Linked DNA regions of Homo sapiens: region 2 is linked to region 1. A link means that fine-mapping ties the variant in region 1 to the expression of a gene that starts in the linked region. Tissue or cell type: lung. Region 1 holds a variant in brackets; the other region holds the start of a gene. All regions are shown on one strand. Distances are from middle to middle.

What was found. PIP is the estimated chance that this variant, and not a neighbour inherited with it, causes the effect.
Region 2: it holds the start of TMOD1, and the variant in region 1 is fine-mapped to the expression of TMOD1 in lung (TOPMed, PIP 0.95).

What each region holds. Positions count from the first base shown.
Region 1 is chr9:97,537,603-97,545,708 of GRCh38, reverse strand. All of the region lies in intron 2 of TMOD1 (tropomodulin 1), which reads right to left. Among named protein-coding and RNA genes, the nearest start is that of TMOD1-AS1, 25 kb to the right of the region's middle. The variant T/C (reference allele first, on the strand shown) is at 3,460.
Region 2 is chr9:97,496,887-97,504,992 of GRCh38, reverse strand. TMOD1 (tropomodulin 1) reads right to left here and starts at 3,327. Exons shown (of 10, transcript NM_003275.4): 1 at 3,190-3,327. RefSeq lists a cis regulatory region at 1,324-1,341, an enhancer at 1,260-1,404 and a silencer at 2,791-3,510.

The DNA.
Region 1 (8,106 bases):
GAATCAGGCAGGAAGAGGCAGACCAAAAAAAAAGCTGGAGAAAGGCCCAGGAAAGCAGCGAGGTGAGCAGTGCCCTGCAGAGCTAAGAGGAGGACGGGGCATGCTCTCTGGCCACAGTCCCTGCTGGCCCTACCCGCTGCCTTCTAACCTCCTGACGGGTCTGTGCTCACAACACACTGGTGGTTAAATATTTTGAACGTCGCCCCTGGAGATGGGTATCTCAAGAAACATAACATCAACCAATTGTTCCCTTCTCTTCTTCAAACATAAGCAGGCTTCTAGGTGTGGGCTTACTGCTAAAGCAGATTCCTATTGGGGGGATTGGAGTTATCCTCATGGGCTTCACTTTAACTCAGCCCCCAGTACCTTAGGGAGTCAAAGAAGTTTATAGCTGCAAGGATGCTTAGAGATCATCAGTGCACACACTCTCCCATTAGGGGAACTGAGGCACAGAGCAAGGAAAGATTTGCCCAAGGAATTTCAGGACAGATCTAGAACAAAAACCAGCGTTCTTCTTCAGATTTACGAGAGGAGGATGACCATTTCTAATCGTTGTGTGCTCCCTGTTCCCTGCATTTGCAGAGCTAGAGGAATACATGGGTGGCTGGTATGGGCAGAACATCACCCAAAAGATATGCACCCTCAAACTGACTAAACTGAAGAGTCATTCCACCTCCAACCTTTTTTTTTTTTTTTTTGAGATGGACTCTCGCTCTGTTGCACCCAGGCTGGAATGCAGTGGCGCAATCTCGGCTCACTGCAACCTCTGCCTCCCAGGTTCAAGCGATTCTCCTGCCTCAGCCTCCTGAGTGGCTGGGATTACAGGTGCCTGACACCACGCCCGGCTAATTTTTTGTATTTTTAATAGAGACAGTGTTTCACCATATTGGCCAGGCTGATCTCGAACTCCCAAACTCAAGTGATCTGCCTGCCTTGGCCTCCCAAAGTGCTGGGATTACCGTTCCCAGCCCCACTTTCAATCTTTGTACCATTAAAATGCATATCTTCAGTCACTGTCACAAACTCCATATCCTTTTCTGAAAGCTGCCTCTGTGAGGGGACTGTTATCAGGGATATGAAGATCACTGTATGCCTGGCACATAGAGGGATACAGCTTGGGAGGGAATACTACTGTTTAAGGAATCTTTTTAATTTTTTTTACTTTTTTTTTTTGAGACAGAGTCTTTCTCTGTCACCAAGGCTGGAGTGCAGTGGTGTGATCTCGGCTCAATGCAACCTCCACCTCCCGGGTTCAAGCAATTCTTCTGCCTCAGCCTCCCGAGTAGCTGGGACTACAGGCGCATGCCACCACACCTGGCTAATTTTTGTATTTTTAGTAAAGACAGGGTTTCACCATATTGGCTAGGCTGGTCTTGAACTCCTGACCTCATGATCCACCCACCTCGGCCTTCCTAAGCCCTGGGATTACAGGCATGAACCACCACATCTGGCCTAACTAATGCATCATTTTTTAAAAGGTGTACTATGCATAACACCACAGTGCTGTTTCAGTAAGAGTAGTGGCTGTAAGATCAGGAGACCGGGGTGTGATCCTGCCTCTGGGAGGGCTGTAAGTGAGCAGGGCCCACCCAGCACAGAGCCCGGACAGACAGATAATGGGCTTGGCAGGTGGTGCTGGTGTACTTGCAGAGAGATTTAGGCCACAGATCAAAAGAGACACTGGGAGTTGGAGCTTTTTATGAGAGGACAGTAGGTAGAAAATCAAGGCCTGACTGACTTTGGGGTGGGGGGCATCAGGAACATAAGTGATGCTCCACACATCCCACTTTTCCTTAAGCAGCAGTTCTCAGATATTGTCCACCATGATAGGCAGGACAGGTGATGCTCCCAGGTGAGCCATGCTTCTGTGGGCATGTCCCAGGTTTGATGGGACTTCCTGTAGCTAGCTGTGTGTGCCCACGCCTTCTCTTCCACAGCAGGGAGCTTATGGTGATGCAAGAGAGTGAGACAATACCTCACTGCCCTGCAAACATCAATGTGTGACTACCCATAATGAATAATCCAAAGTCTTTGTGACATGCCTGCACTTCACAGTTGACCCTACATCAGGCTTAAGCCCTGACTTGGAGTAATAATGATACAACTACACAATCTTGGGCAAGTCCCCTAAATCTCATTGTGCCTCAGTTTCCATGGCTGTAAAATGTGAATAATGAGAGTTGCTCTCTCATAGAGTGGTTGAGAAAATTAAACTAGATAATGCAGAAAATGTGCTCAGCACAGTGCCTAACATAGTAAACGGTCAAAAATTATTACTTATGATCCCTTCTATTGTTATATAATCAGGTAGAATATATGTTAATAGGAGATTGGTTACCCAAATATGTATGTTTAACAGGGAATGTATTATCCAAATATAAATTCAAAAAACTAAAACACACAATTATAAAATGAATTAAGCAGTGAAAGCAAGTGCTCATGCTTCTTAAGGATCCCCACAGGGAAGGCCTACAGATTTTCATTACCATAAAGGGTTTTAATGGCAGTAAGATGCTGGGGCATGTTCTGGCCCCAGAAAGGCTAAGTATTGCGATAGAAGAAATTCAGGGGTTGTAACTGAGGGGAGAAGGGTTTGCAAACTCTCATCTCTTTTCGAATCTATCTGGTAGAGGCCACGGATTTAGTTAAAGCAGAGTTTCTCAACCTCAGCACAACTGACATTCTGGGCTGGACACTTCCTTGTTGTGGAGGCCACTCTACCCACTGGAGATTGTTTAGCAGCCTTTCTGCTCTCTATCTCCTAGATGCTAGTAGCACTGCCCCCAGTTGTGACAACCAAAAATGTCTCCAAACATTGCCACATTTCTTTTATTTTCTTCCTTTTTTTTTTTTTTTTTTGAGATGGAGTCTCACTTTGTTGCCCAGGCTGGAGTGCAGTGGCGTGATCTCGGCTCACTGCAACTTCTGCCTCCCGGGTTCAAGCAATTCTGTCTCAGCCTCCCCAGTAGCTGGGACTACAGATGCCCACCACCATGCCCGGCTAATTTTTGTATTTCTAGTAGAGGCGGGGTTTCACCATGTTGGTCAGGCTGGTCTTGAACTCCTGACCTCAGGTGATCCACCAGCCTCGGCCTCCCAAAGTGCTGGAATTATAGGCATTAGCCTCCATGCCCAGCCACCAAATTTCCTTTGAGGGGCAAAATTGCCCCTGATTGAGAGCCACTGCATTAAACAAAAAGCCATATAATTATAACATGTTATATAATACAGATTTTTTAATGTATTTCAAAAATATTATTTACATAACATAAAAATATGGCTTCATTTATTCAAGTCTTTATTGAAAGCAGTTGATTTGTAAAAACAAAAATGTCAAAGGCCTTTTCTAATAACTCTAAGCTTATCACATTTTTAAAGTAAATATTGAGAATATCAGCCTCATTAGAGGTTAAAGTTTGTTTTCTTTCTATTAAATGGTATGTTTAACAAAATATCACA[T/C]GATTGTCAGTAAAACCAAAGATAGATGCATATTTTTAAACTCCTGATTGTTTACCACTTTAACTCGTTTTCAAAAACAGCATGTGATCTCCCATTATATATAAAAACTCAAAGTGAATCAAAGACCTAGATATAAGAACTACACTATAAAACATTTGGAAGAAAACATAGGCATAAATCCTTCTGATTCTGGATTAGGCAATGGTTTCTTAGATAAGATATCAAAGCAATAAGCAACAAAATAAAAAAGTAGATTACTTGGACTTCATTAAAATTAAAAACATTTGTGCTGCGAAGGACACTAGTGAGAAGACAAACCACAGATTGGGAGGAAATATTTGTAAATCATGTATCTCATAAGAGTTTCATATCTAGAATACATAAAAATCTCTTACAACTCAATAATATATGACAAATAACCCAATTTAAAAATGGGCCAGGCGTGGTGACTCACACCTGTAATCCCAGCACTTTGGGAGGCCAAGGTGGGTGGGTCACCTGAGGTCAGGAGTTTGAGACCAGCCTGGCCAACATGGTGAAACCCTGTCTCCACTAAAAATACAAAAATTAGCCGGGCGTGGTGGTGCATGCCTGTAATCCCAGCTACTCAGGAGGCTGAGACATGAAATTTGTTTGAACTCAGGAGGCAGAGGTTGCAGTGAGCTGAGATCACGCCGCTAGACTCCAGCCTGATCAACAGAGTGAGACTGTCTCAAAAAAAAAAATAAAAAATAAAAAATAAAAAATAAAAATGGTCAAGTGGCTGGGCACAGTGGCCCATGCCTGTAATCTCAGCACTTTTGGGAGGCTGAAGCAGGCAGATCACCTGAGGTCAGGAGTTCCAGACCAGCCTGGCCAACATGGCGAAACCCCGTCTCTACTAAAAATACAAAAATTAGCCGGGCATGGTGGCGCACATCTGCAGTCCCAGCTACACGTGAGGCTAAGGTGGGAGGATCCTTTGAACTTAGGAGGCAGAGATTGCAGTGAGCTGAGATTGTGCCAATGCACTCCAGCCTGGGTGACAGAGCTCCATCTCAAAAAAATAAAAATAAAAATAAATAAATTTTTTAAAATGGGCAAGTGATCTGGATAGACATTTTTCCAAAGATTATATAAAAATGGCCAAAAAGCTCATGAAAAAATGCTCAATACTATTATCCATTAGGGAAATGCAAATCAAATCCAGAATGAGATACCATTTCACAGCCAGCAGGATGGCAATAATAAAAAAACACAGATAATAACAAGTACTGATGAGAATATAGAGCAACTAGAACTCTCATACACTGCTGGTAGGAATGTAAAATGATACAACCCTTTTGGAAAATAGTTGTGCAATTTCTCAAAAAGTTAAACATAAAGTTACCATATGATGCAGCAGATGTATGTCCACCCAAATGCTTGTACACGAACATTTATAACAGCATTATTCATAATAACAAAAGTACGAACAAGTCTAATGTTCACCAGCTAATGAATGGATAAGACAAATGTGGTATACCCATACAATTGAATATTATCAGCTGTGAAAAAAAACGTAGTACTACAACGTGAATGACCCTTGAAAACATCATACTAAGTGTAAGAAGCCAGATACAAAAGGCCATGTATTATACAATTCCATACAATATATGAAACGTACAGAACAGTCAAATCTGTAGAGACAGAAAGTAGATTAGTGGTTGCCTAGGGCTGGTGTTATGGACTGGAATGTGTGCCTCCAACTCATACGTTGAAGCCCTCACCCCCAGAGTGACTATAATTGGAGACAGGGCCTGTAAGGAGATCATTAAAGTCAAATGAGGTCATAAGGGTGGAACCCTGATCTGATAGGATTGGTGTCCCTATAAGAAGAGATACCAGAGAGCTGCTGCAACACCTCCTTCCCCAACCAGTCACCGTGAGAACACACAGAGAGAAGCTGTTGTCTGTAAGCCAGCAAGAAAGTCTTTACCAGAAACTAACCCCTCAAGACCCTGATCTGGGACTTCTAAGCCTCCGGAATTGTGCAAAAATAAGTCTCTGTTGTTTAAGCCACCTAGTCTGTGGTATTTTGTTAGAGCAGCCTAAACAGGTTAATACAGCTGGGAAGGTTGAAGGGAGATGGAGAGTGACAGCTAATGGGCATGAGGTTTCTTTTTGAGGTGATGAAAATGTTCTAAAATTGATCATGATGGTTATACGACTCTGTGAATATGCTAAAAGAACAAACCAATGAATGGCGCATTTTTGTTTTCTTTTTCTTTTTTTCTTTTCTTTTTTTTTTTTTTTTTTTGAGACAGAGTCTCACTCTGTTGCCCAGGCTGGAGTGCAGTGGCATGATCTCGGTTCACTGCAAGCTCCGCTCCCCACCTCCAGGTTCACGCCATTCTCCTGCCTCAGCCTCCTGAGTAGCTGGGACTACAGGCGCCTGCCACCATGCTCGGCTAATTTTTTGTATTTTTAGTAAAGACGGGGTTTCACCATGTTAGCCAGGATGGTCTCGATCTCCTGACCTCGTGATCCGCCCGCCTCGGCCTCCCAAAGTGCTGGGATTACAGGCGTGAGCCACCTCACCCGGGCTGAATGGTGCACTTTAAGTGGATGATTGTATGCTATGTGAATGGTATCTCAAAAAAGCTGTTTTTTTTAAATGGCATATGTTCATCTATGGGAGAATGATAAAAGTGGCTAATGCAGTAACTGCACCAAATGGTCATGGAATGCTGAGGCAAGAGGGCTCTTCATGTGCCAGTGGTTCACGGTGATGCTGAGACTGGCCAGGCTAGAGCTGGCCAAATTTCAAATGGTGCCTGTTTTACAATGTGATTTACCTTATTATGTAAATTACTTGTGGAGAAGTTAAATGAACCTGAAAATATCGCCATAGAGCTCTCATGATTATTAGAACCTAATACTGACTCTCACACCCGGGCTACTCAATAGGTGAGGAAAAGAGTTCCCACAACCATTCTGTTGTTGGCTCTGGCCAGGAGAGTATTTGGTGATCATGTATGCATAGAAAAGCACCTCTCATTCTCTTATTTCTTATTCATTCAATAAACATCTGCTAAATGAATGCTATGTGTCCAGGTAGTGTGTTAACATGTAGGGCTATGATCCCACAAAGAGAAATTAAAAAAATTGGAGTAACCAGGGAGATGAGAGGTGAATGGAGAAAGTAGAGTAAAATTAGAGAAAAGTTTTTCTTTGTTGATCTGTTTTGTTTGTTTGTTTGTTTTGTTTTGTTTTGTTTTGTTTTTGAGATGGAGTCTGGCTGTGCTGGCCAGGCTGGAGTGCAGTGGTGCTATCTCAGCTCACTGCAACCTCCACCTCCCAGGTTCAAGTGATTCTCCTGCCTCAGCCTCCTGAGTAGCTGGGATTACAGGTGCATGCCACCATGCCCGGCTAATTTTTTTTTTTTTTTGTATTTTTAGTAGAGATGGGGTTTCACTGTGTTGGCCAGGCTGGTGTCAAACTCCTGATCTCGTGATCCACCCACCTTGGCCTCCCAAAGTGCTGGGATTACAGGCATGAGCCACCGCACCTGGCCTAGAGAAAAATCTTAATTACACATAGTTATTCACTAAACACATGGTAATCAAGATCCTAAATGGAGGGGAAGGTCTACTTTACTGAATAGCAAAGAAGAATCTATAACAAGCCTATACATTACATTTAAAGGTACACTTTCATGGTGCCTGTGGGAAATTGAACTCATTTAACCTATAAGGAATTTAAATCTCAATCTTAAAATGTGCACAGGATAAATTTGCTGGGCAAGTGCTTTTTTTTTTTGTAGTTAGTTCAAAGGGAAGCATCAATCTGACTCCACCAAAGCAGCCGTCAATTCATGAGAGGCACTGAAAGTCACATGCACTTGTCACACAAACATCCTTACCCCAAAGACAGGTTGTGAGATTTGTATATAGGAATCTGAGGATATCTTTATGTCCTTATTTAACAATTGGAAATTTGCTCATCTGAGGAGGTCAGTGACTAATACCTGGATGATCTTTTTATCATTACCTGATAGGAAATTTAGCGCAGGTTTTAAGGAGGAGGAAATTCTAGATTATCTCTGATCTTAGGCTAAAATTATATAATAGCTGTGAGTTACGTGGGAGTGTTGGGGACTGGGGCATACTAGAGCGTTCATGCCTCCACACTACCCAGCTCCAGCGGACTGTTGACATGTAGGAATGTGGATGTTGTTATTAGATCTGCTCAGTTTTGTGTGAAACCTCTTGATTTTAAAATATTGACACGTAGTCCAAATATTTTAATAACAATGTTCAGGCCAAATAAAACATATCTGCAAGGCAGACTCAGCCCATAAACTGCCATTATGCCACATCTGATCTAAGGTTCCTAGCAAACTAAGATTCCATGTAAGAAAGCCAAAATATTCATTCATTTATTTCTCAAATATTTACTGAGTATCCTGACCATATCAGGTGTTGGGCTAGAGAAAGCAAGAGGTATACACATAGGTTTTAAATTTAGAATTTTTTAAATTTTGAAAATACAAAGTTTAATTTGTTCTTGAAAATGACTATAGAGGTGGAAATTAGGCAACTTTTCCTGTGTGCAGTTGCCAACTCCTGATTTTTAAAATGGTGGCTTCACCTTAAATGTTGTAGAATTATAACTCGGATGTGCAGC
Region 2 (8,106 bases), 41 kb after region 1:
TGTGCTATCTGGTTCATGCTTTTCCATAGAAACAGGCCTGTGGTTTTAAACTGATAATGGCTCCTAGCAGCCCAATAATTGATTTATCTGGTGTTCTGGCTTTAAGGGAAAAGTAAACTGGCCTCTTTAGAAATGTTGGCAGCCTGGCTGGTCCATTAGTAAGACTGAAAAGTCAAAACATTGACTGGAAAAGGCCATTACGACCGGGCTCAGCAGGAGTCATCGATAGATGATGTCATTTCAGAAATAAATAAGCCAAGGTTATGAGGCCCCAGAGCAGGGTCAAAACACTCTTCACAGCCCATCACCATCCTCCATCGCAGATACTGGTCTGCCAGAGACATAGGGGTCTGAGCCAGGATCTGCTTCGTTTTACCTTTTTTTGCTCATTCCAGGGGATGAAGGCCACCTGCAGAGTCTGTGACATTCTGCAAGTCACTAAGGAAGGTCCCCAATCCTCATTATGGGCACACCTTTTAGATTCCCCTTTAACTCTCTCCCCTCTCCTGGGTTCTTCTCACTACTTGCCATACTCTTTATCCTAGAATGCCTGCCTCCCTTCTGTTCCTTGTCCTCAGTTCCTGCTACCTTCCCTCTCCCTTCCTTTCTCATCCAAGCTTTTAGAAAGAGTTGCTGGCTCTGTTGAGAGCCTTCTTCAGCCTACAGCCTGAAGAAGTGGAGAACTTCTTCAGCTCCTGTTAGCTCCTGCCTTTCCCCCTCACCACAACGAATACTATCATTGCAATATCAGGCTCTGGGCTGAGGGCTTGCCCTGAATCATCTCACTTAATTCTCACAAGCAGCCCCTATGAAATGGGGCTATTGTTGTCTCCATTGTATGAGGAGAAAACGAGGCTCAGACAGGCTGGGTCACTGGCAGATCTCATTTTTTGAGCCTGCTGCAATACCCTGGTCTAAGTCACTCATGATCCCTGCCAATCCTGATGGTCTTTTCCCAGTCCTCATCCCCCTACTCCTGTCTCTCCACAGCAAGTGACACTGCCCACCTCTGTCCTCCCTTGGCACCTGGGAAAGCCACTGTCTCTCACTCCTTCCCCAGCTCCTCCTTACAGGATGGGTCATGCTAGAAAGGCTTCCAAGGAAGACTCTAAGCCCTCTCCACTCCAGGTCCACTAGAGACCACCTTGTCTGCCCCCTCATTGCTCAAGGTTCCTCTGAGTGGGTGGCAGAGTTGGGGCTGGAGCCAGATATCCTAACCTCCAGGCCAGTCCACCTCCCATTGCTCAGAGCTGCCACACCTACTTTGTGTTTTCTGTTTTTGCTGAGCTGCAAGAAAACGCCCTACCCTGAAGGAGGGAGAAGGTGTGAGACCCTGATAAGGTGGGGCGGAGGCTATTTTTAGAGGACACTGGCTTTCATCTTAGGCTGGGAGAAACTCAAGGGTCAATGACTCTCTAAAACACGGGTTTGTAAGACTAGCTCATTAAAGATAATACACCAAAGTGACAGTATTCTTGTTTTCACTCTGCCTGTTGGTTGTGTGGCTCTAACTGATGGAAACTTTATTATCTGACTCCATTTCCCGTTAATTCTTTTTTCTGTAAGTCTTTGAGATGGCTTTAGAAAAAAACACATAACAGAAAGTAAAGTAGAAGCAAAAAGGAAACTTCAGGATGAGGGCGCTATTGTCCAGACAAGGTAAAGTCCAGAACAGCAGCAGATTCAAGAAGAGGGGGCATTGATCGGGTGCTCCCAGAGCTCCCGGACCTGCCTGAGCAGTGGGAAGGGTGCGGAAAGAGATGGGAAAGGCTGGGAGACTGCAGAACTTCTGGCGTGACCGGCCCTGTGTGACCTTGAGCAGGGGGCTCTGCGGCCCTGCACAGAGGACAAAATGGCAGTCACCTCTGGAAGAAAGATGGGGTGGGGGCCCTAGGGGTTCTCACGCTGAGGGCCCAGCACCTGGGTTCAGGGTCTGGTTCTGCGATTCAGACACGGAGGAGCTTGGGCCAGGTCGTCTCCGAGAGTCTGAGGGCATAGGGCGAGGGCTGGAGACAGGGTCTGTAATAGTAGCGGTGGGTGAAGGGTGTAGGAGGGGGCGGCGCTGCGCAGGTTGGAGGACGCATCATAGGCCCGATATAGACCGGGAAACTGTGGCCAGGGAGCGGCTGTACTGGAACCACTGCCCCTGCCCAGCTCATCGCATCTGAAGCTGCGTGGCTCACAGGCTGCTTTGCCGGCTACGGAGCAGAGAGATGCCCATAGGCACCCCAAAAGTGCACTTCCTAGGGTTGTACGGCTTAGGATATCCGACGGCCTTAGTGAGTCCCAGGATACGATCGAGTCTGGGGCAGTCAGTCTCCGATTTCTGCAGCGTCTCCGCATGTGCGCGGCTGGGACCCCAGCGTCCCAGGCCCGGAGAGGGTGAACAGGTGTGGGGAGCGCAGGCGGCCAAGAGCGCGCCCTGCAGCTCTCAGGGCTTGGGCTCCCAGCTCCATCGCGGCTACCAAACCTCGCCCCTACAAATGGGAGACTGAGATCCAGAAACAAGAGGGGGATTGCCAAGGCCATGCCGAGAGCCGGCGACAACCTGGGGCTCCCGCCTCCAAGCTCTTTCCAGCTCCACTTGGCCGCGTAGCGCGTGTCGTGGTGCTTTAAACCTTGTCTCTCCCAGTTTGGGAAACTTCACCTGCCCCAAACACTCTCAGCGCGAACCTGGGATCCACGTCCAGTCGAGCCTTTACTCCCCCACTCCCACCCCCAGACTCTTGCAGGCGGAGAAGAGGCCGCGCCCCCGAGCCCAGCTCCGGCTGGCACCTGTACCCAGCTGAGCACCCCGCGGGCTCAGAGCCCCGCCGCGCTGGAGTCCTGCGGGTGGCGGGGGCGCCCCTCCGCCAGGACCCCAGCCCGGGGCGCCGTCTCCTCCAGAACCCCGGGTCCTTCTCGCGTTCACAGACGCGGTGCGGAGGTCCAGAGCGGAGGGCGCCCTGGCCAGGGCTGCGCGCGCGGGGAGGCGGGGACGGGAGCGCTGGGCTCGGAACCCCGAGACCCGGGCTCCCTAGCCCCAGAGGCAACCCGAGGCGGCAGCTATTTATAGAGGGAGCCACGCTCAGTCCCTCTTGGCGGCGGCGGCGACAGCTGAATATTTTGCCCAGATATGGCTGAGGCCCCGGAGCGGGGGCAGGGAGCCCCGCGAGCGCGAGGGGGACCCCAGGCGGGGTGGGGGCTTACCCGGACGCAGAGCTGTGGGGCCGGCGCGGACGCGGGCTGCGGAACAGGCGCGGGCGGCGGGCAGATGGACGCGGGCGGAGGCCGCGGTGCTCCGGCGGGCAGCGGGCGGGCGAGCGCAGCGCGGGGCTGGACGAGCTCCCGGGCGGCCGCGGGCGGGCGGGAGCTGTGGGCTCGGGGGTGGGAGCCAGGGGCGGGCCCGGCTCGGCTGTCACCGCGCCCCGCCCCGCCCGCCGCCGGCTCCCTCCTTCCCCCCCCCTCCACTCGGGGGCGCCCGGGCGCAGCGCACTTCCCCGTCGGGACGCGGCCCTGGGCCGGGAGCGCAGGGGAGTCGGGCTGCAGCCGAGCGAGCGCGGGCCCCTGCCTGGGTCTCCTCCGCTTCCCCGCTGGTACCAGGAAGAGTTTGAGCGACGGTAGAGTTATGTGGGAAAAGGTGGGCAGATTTGCATTCCTGTGGGGTTTAGAATTTAAGATTTTGAGAATCTGAAGTCCCCAGAAGTGATGGACCAAAGCCAGCTAAGCAGCTGCTGCACCTTCACCTCTGATTGAAGCGCCGCTCCGTCCGTTTCCCAGCAGCGCGGCCAGGTGGGCTCTGAGCCGCAAGCTTTAACCGCGATCGTTTTGTCTACACGTAGTTCCAACACGCAATCGAATACATTCTCTCTACACTGAGAGCGAGTGGAGTGTCTAAAATACTGATTTTAAATGACCACAACAAAAAGACCCAAGTTCTTAAAAGGCTTTTTTTTTTTTTTTTTTTTTTCAGAACAAACCACTTTAGGTGGTTTATTCCAAATACAATTTTAAGTGTTTTAATAAACAAATGTCTCATGCAAAGGAATTTATATAGAAATAGGAAAACGTCTTATTTTGGATTATTATGGGAAAGCTTTTGGTAGGGTAGACCTTAATAAAATCAGCTCTTAATCCTGATGTATAGATTATTAATGAGAAACACTCATTAACCAAATTTTGTTTCTCAAGAAAATGAATTTCTCTAAAGTCCTCACAATGAGAACGCTCTTTTCAAGGGGTATATGCCATACATTTAAAAATAAGCAGTGATCTAATATTTCAGATTATTTTAAAACATTTTTGTTGTGAATCGAACATATAAGAACATACAACATAAGTTATGTTGTATGTGTAAACAAAATAAATGTGCAGCTTCATGACTTTTTACAACGTGAACACCTGTGCAACCAGTCACTCAGAGAACATTGCCTACAGCCCAGAAGCCAACCTGTCCCTCCTGGGTCCCAACTCCCTTCTAAAGATGATCACTTTCTTGACCCTTACGGTGATCATGTCCTTGTTTTTTTTCTTCCCTCTGTAGTATGTCTTCATTTGTTCAAATCTGTTGTTAATCTGTGGTTTTATGCAGCTGTAGTTTTTCACTGTATGAATATGCCACAGTTTAAAAAAAAATCCATTTGACTATTAATGGGCATTTAGGTTGTTTCCAGGTTTTAGCTATTACAAATAGTGCTGCTGCGAACATTCCTTGCCAGAATCCTCCTGTCCACGCGCACAGCCTGCTGTTGGAAGTGCTGGGTGATAGAGAAAGCCTAACCTCAACTTCGGCAGAGATAAGCCTGAACTCTTCCAAAGTTATAGTACCATTGTACAGTGCAGTTTCCCATCTTCAACAACACTTGAAGTTACAAAAATTGAAACACTTTAGAAATTCTGATATGTGAGTAATGGTATCTCATTGAGGTTCAAACTTGCATTTCCCTATATCCTAATGTGTTGAGTATCACTTCATATTTATTGGCCAGTTGGATTTGTTTTGTGAATTGTTCAGATTTATTGTCCATTTTTCTTCTGGATAGTCCTGTGTATTGAATAGATTCAATGGTGTGTGTATCCTCAGTTATATTCCACTCTTTTGCCTTTTCACCTTATTAACGTATTTTGATAAACAGGTGTTCTTAAATACAGTCTGGCAATCTTTTCCCTTATTGGCAGCACTCTGTGTCCTGTTTAAGAACTCTTTCCTGTTCCTGGGTTATAAAGTTATCTTCCTATGTTATCTTCCCACCTTAGCCTTTCATGTTTAGGTTTTTTGTTTGTTTGTTTTTGTTTTTGTTTTTGAGATAGAGTCTTGCGCTTTGTTGGCCAGGCTGGAGTAAAGTGGTGTGATCACGGCTCATTGCAGCCTCAACCTCCTGGGCTCAAGCCAACCCCTTAACCCCCACATCAGCCCCTCAAAGTGCTGGGATTACAGGCATGAGCCACCATGCCCAGCTATTTAAAAAAATGTTTTTTGTAGAGATAGGGGACTTGCTATATTGCCCAGGCTGGTCTGAAACTCCTATGCTCAAGCAATCCTCCCGCCTCAGCCTCCCAAAGTGCTGGTATTACAGGCGCGAGCCACTGTGCCCAGCCTCATGTTTAGTTTTTTGTTTTTTTTTTTTGTTTGTTTGTTTTTTTTTTTTGAGACAGGGTCTCTGTCATCCAGGCTGGAGTGCAGTGGCGCGATCTCGGCTCACTACAACCTCTGCCTCCCAGGCTCAGGTGATCCTCCCACCTCAGCCTCCTGAATAGCTAGAACTACAGTTGTGCACCACCACATCCAGCTAATTTTTTGGTAAAGACAGGGTTTTGCCACGTTGCCCAGGCTGGTCTCAAACTCCTGGCCTTAAGTGATCCGCCCACCTCAAAGTGCTGGGATTACAGGCATGAGCCACCATGCCCGGCCAATGTTTAGGTTTTCAATCCATCTGGAATTGACTTTTGAATATGGTATGAGGAAGGGTTCATTCACATTTCATTTGTTTGTGTCACACTGACTTAGCACTAATTTTGTGGTTACATCAAGAAACAATCTATTGCTTTATTTTAAAAAGTAATGGACTCCTCCCCCTCCCCCTCCCCCTCTCCCTCTCCCCACAGTCTCCCTCTCCCTCTCCCTCTCTCTCCACGGTCTCCCTCTGATGCCCAGCGGAGGCTGGACTGTAGTGCCGCCATCTCGGCTCACTGCAACCTCCCTGCCTGATTCTCCTGCTTCAGCCTGCCGAGTGCCTGGGATTGCAGGCGCACGCCGCCACGCCTGACTGGTTTTCGTATTTTTTTGGTGGAGATGGGGTTTCGCCATGTTGGCCGGGCTGGTCTCCAGCTCCTAACCACGAGTGATCTGCTAGCCTCGGCCTCCCGAGGTGCCGGGATTGCAGACGGAGTCTCGCTCACTCAGTGCTCAATGTTGCCCAGGCTGGAGTGCAGTGGCGTGATCTCGGCTCGCTATAACCTCCACCTCCCAGCCGCCTGCCTTGGCCTCCCAAAGTGCCGAGATTGCAGCCTCTGCCCGGCCGCCACCCCGTCTGGGAAGTGAGGAGCATCTCTGCCTGGCCACCCATCGTCTAGGATGTGAGGAGCCCCTCTGCCCAGCAGCCCAGTCTGGGAAGTGAGGAGCGCCTCTTCCCGGCCGCCATCCCGTCTAGGAAGTGAGGAGCGTCTCTGCCCGGCCGCCCATCGTCTGAGATGTGGGGAGCGCCTCTGCCCCACTGCCCCGTCTGGGATGTGAGAAGCGCCTCTGCCCCGCCGCGACCCCGTCTGGAAACTGAGGAGTGTCTCTGCCCGACCACCACCCCGTCTGGGAGGTGAGGAGCGTCTCTGCCCAGCCGCCCCGTCTGAGAAGTGAGGAGCCCCTCCGCCTGGCAGCCGCCCCATCTGGGAAGTGAGGAGCGTCTCCGCCCAGCAGACGCCCCCTCCAGGAGGTGGGGGGCAGCCCCCGCCCGGCCAGCCGCCCCGTCCGGGAGGGAGGTGGGGGGGCGCCTCTGCCCAGCCGCCCTGTCTGGGAGGTGGGGGGGCCCCTCTGCCCGGCCGCCACCCCATCTGGGAAGTGTACCCAGCAGCTCATTGAGAACGGGCCATGATGACGATGGCGGTTTTGTCGAGTGGAAGCGGGGGAAGTGTGGGGAAAGGAAAGAGAAATCAGATTGTTGCTGTGTCTGTGTAGAAAGAAGTAGACATGGGAGACTCCATTTTGTTCTGTACTAAGAAAAATTCTTCTGCCTTGCAAAAAATAAATAAATAAATAAATAAATAAATAAATAAATAAAAGTAATGGAAACATTTCTAAAGTCAGTGAAATAGAAACCTTTTCCTAACCTGTAGACAATTTGAGGATTTTTCCATTTTTTTATTAGAGAATGAAACAATTATTAAAAACATACCAGTTTATTTCACTTAAACATTTCTGTGTTGGGATATTTTTATTTCATCATAAGTGATAAATCACTGGCATTCAGCACTCCTGAATTTTGAATCACTTGTTGTAAATACTGAGTTTTAAAAAGCTAGAGATAATTTTGACATGTTTAAAATGAAAAACTTCAAATATTTGGTCTCTACCTTCCTCTTTCTGTTCTCATTTGTTTCTGGATTTTTCTCAAATAAAAACAAACAAATGACATTGAGAATTTTTATTTCCAGCCTGGTTTTTGCCCCTGAAGTTTATTCCACATTTCCAAGATTCTGCATATCTTCACATGGAAGTCTATTAGCTCAAATTCAGTGTGTTCAAAATCAAATTTTTAAGCTTCCCACTCCCCCACTCCATCTGAGTAAGGTCCTAGGCTCTCATACCTTAAGACTTGGCTTCACTCTTCCCAATCTGTATCTAAGCTGTCTAATAATTGTAATTAAAAACTTTACAAGGTCATCAACACTTTTTCTTCAACACCATTGCTCCACTCTTAGTCCAGGGCCTCCCCACCTCATCTTTGGACCACTGCTAAAGCCTATAACCTGTCTGCCAATCTATCTGCCCATCAATTAGCAAGCACAAAAGGAGTGCCTGATGTGTGTAAGATGCCATTCTGACGGCTGTGGATGCTCAGACGGTGGTGTGCTGGAGAGCCTGTCATATGCGGTCTCAAGAGCTGCTTAGGTGAGTCTCTTCCCAACTCCACATTC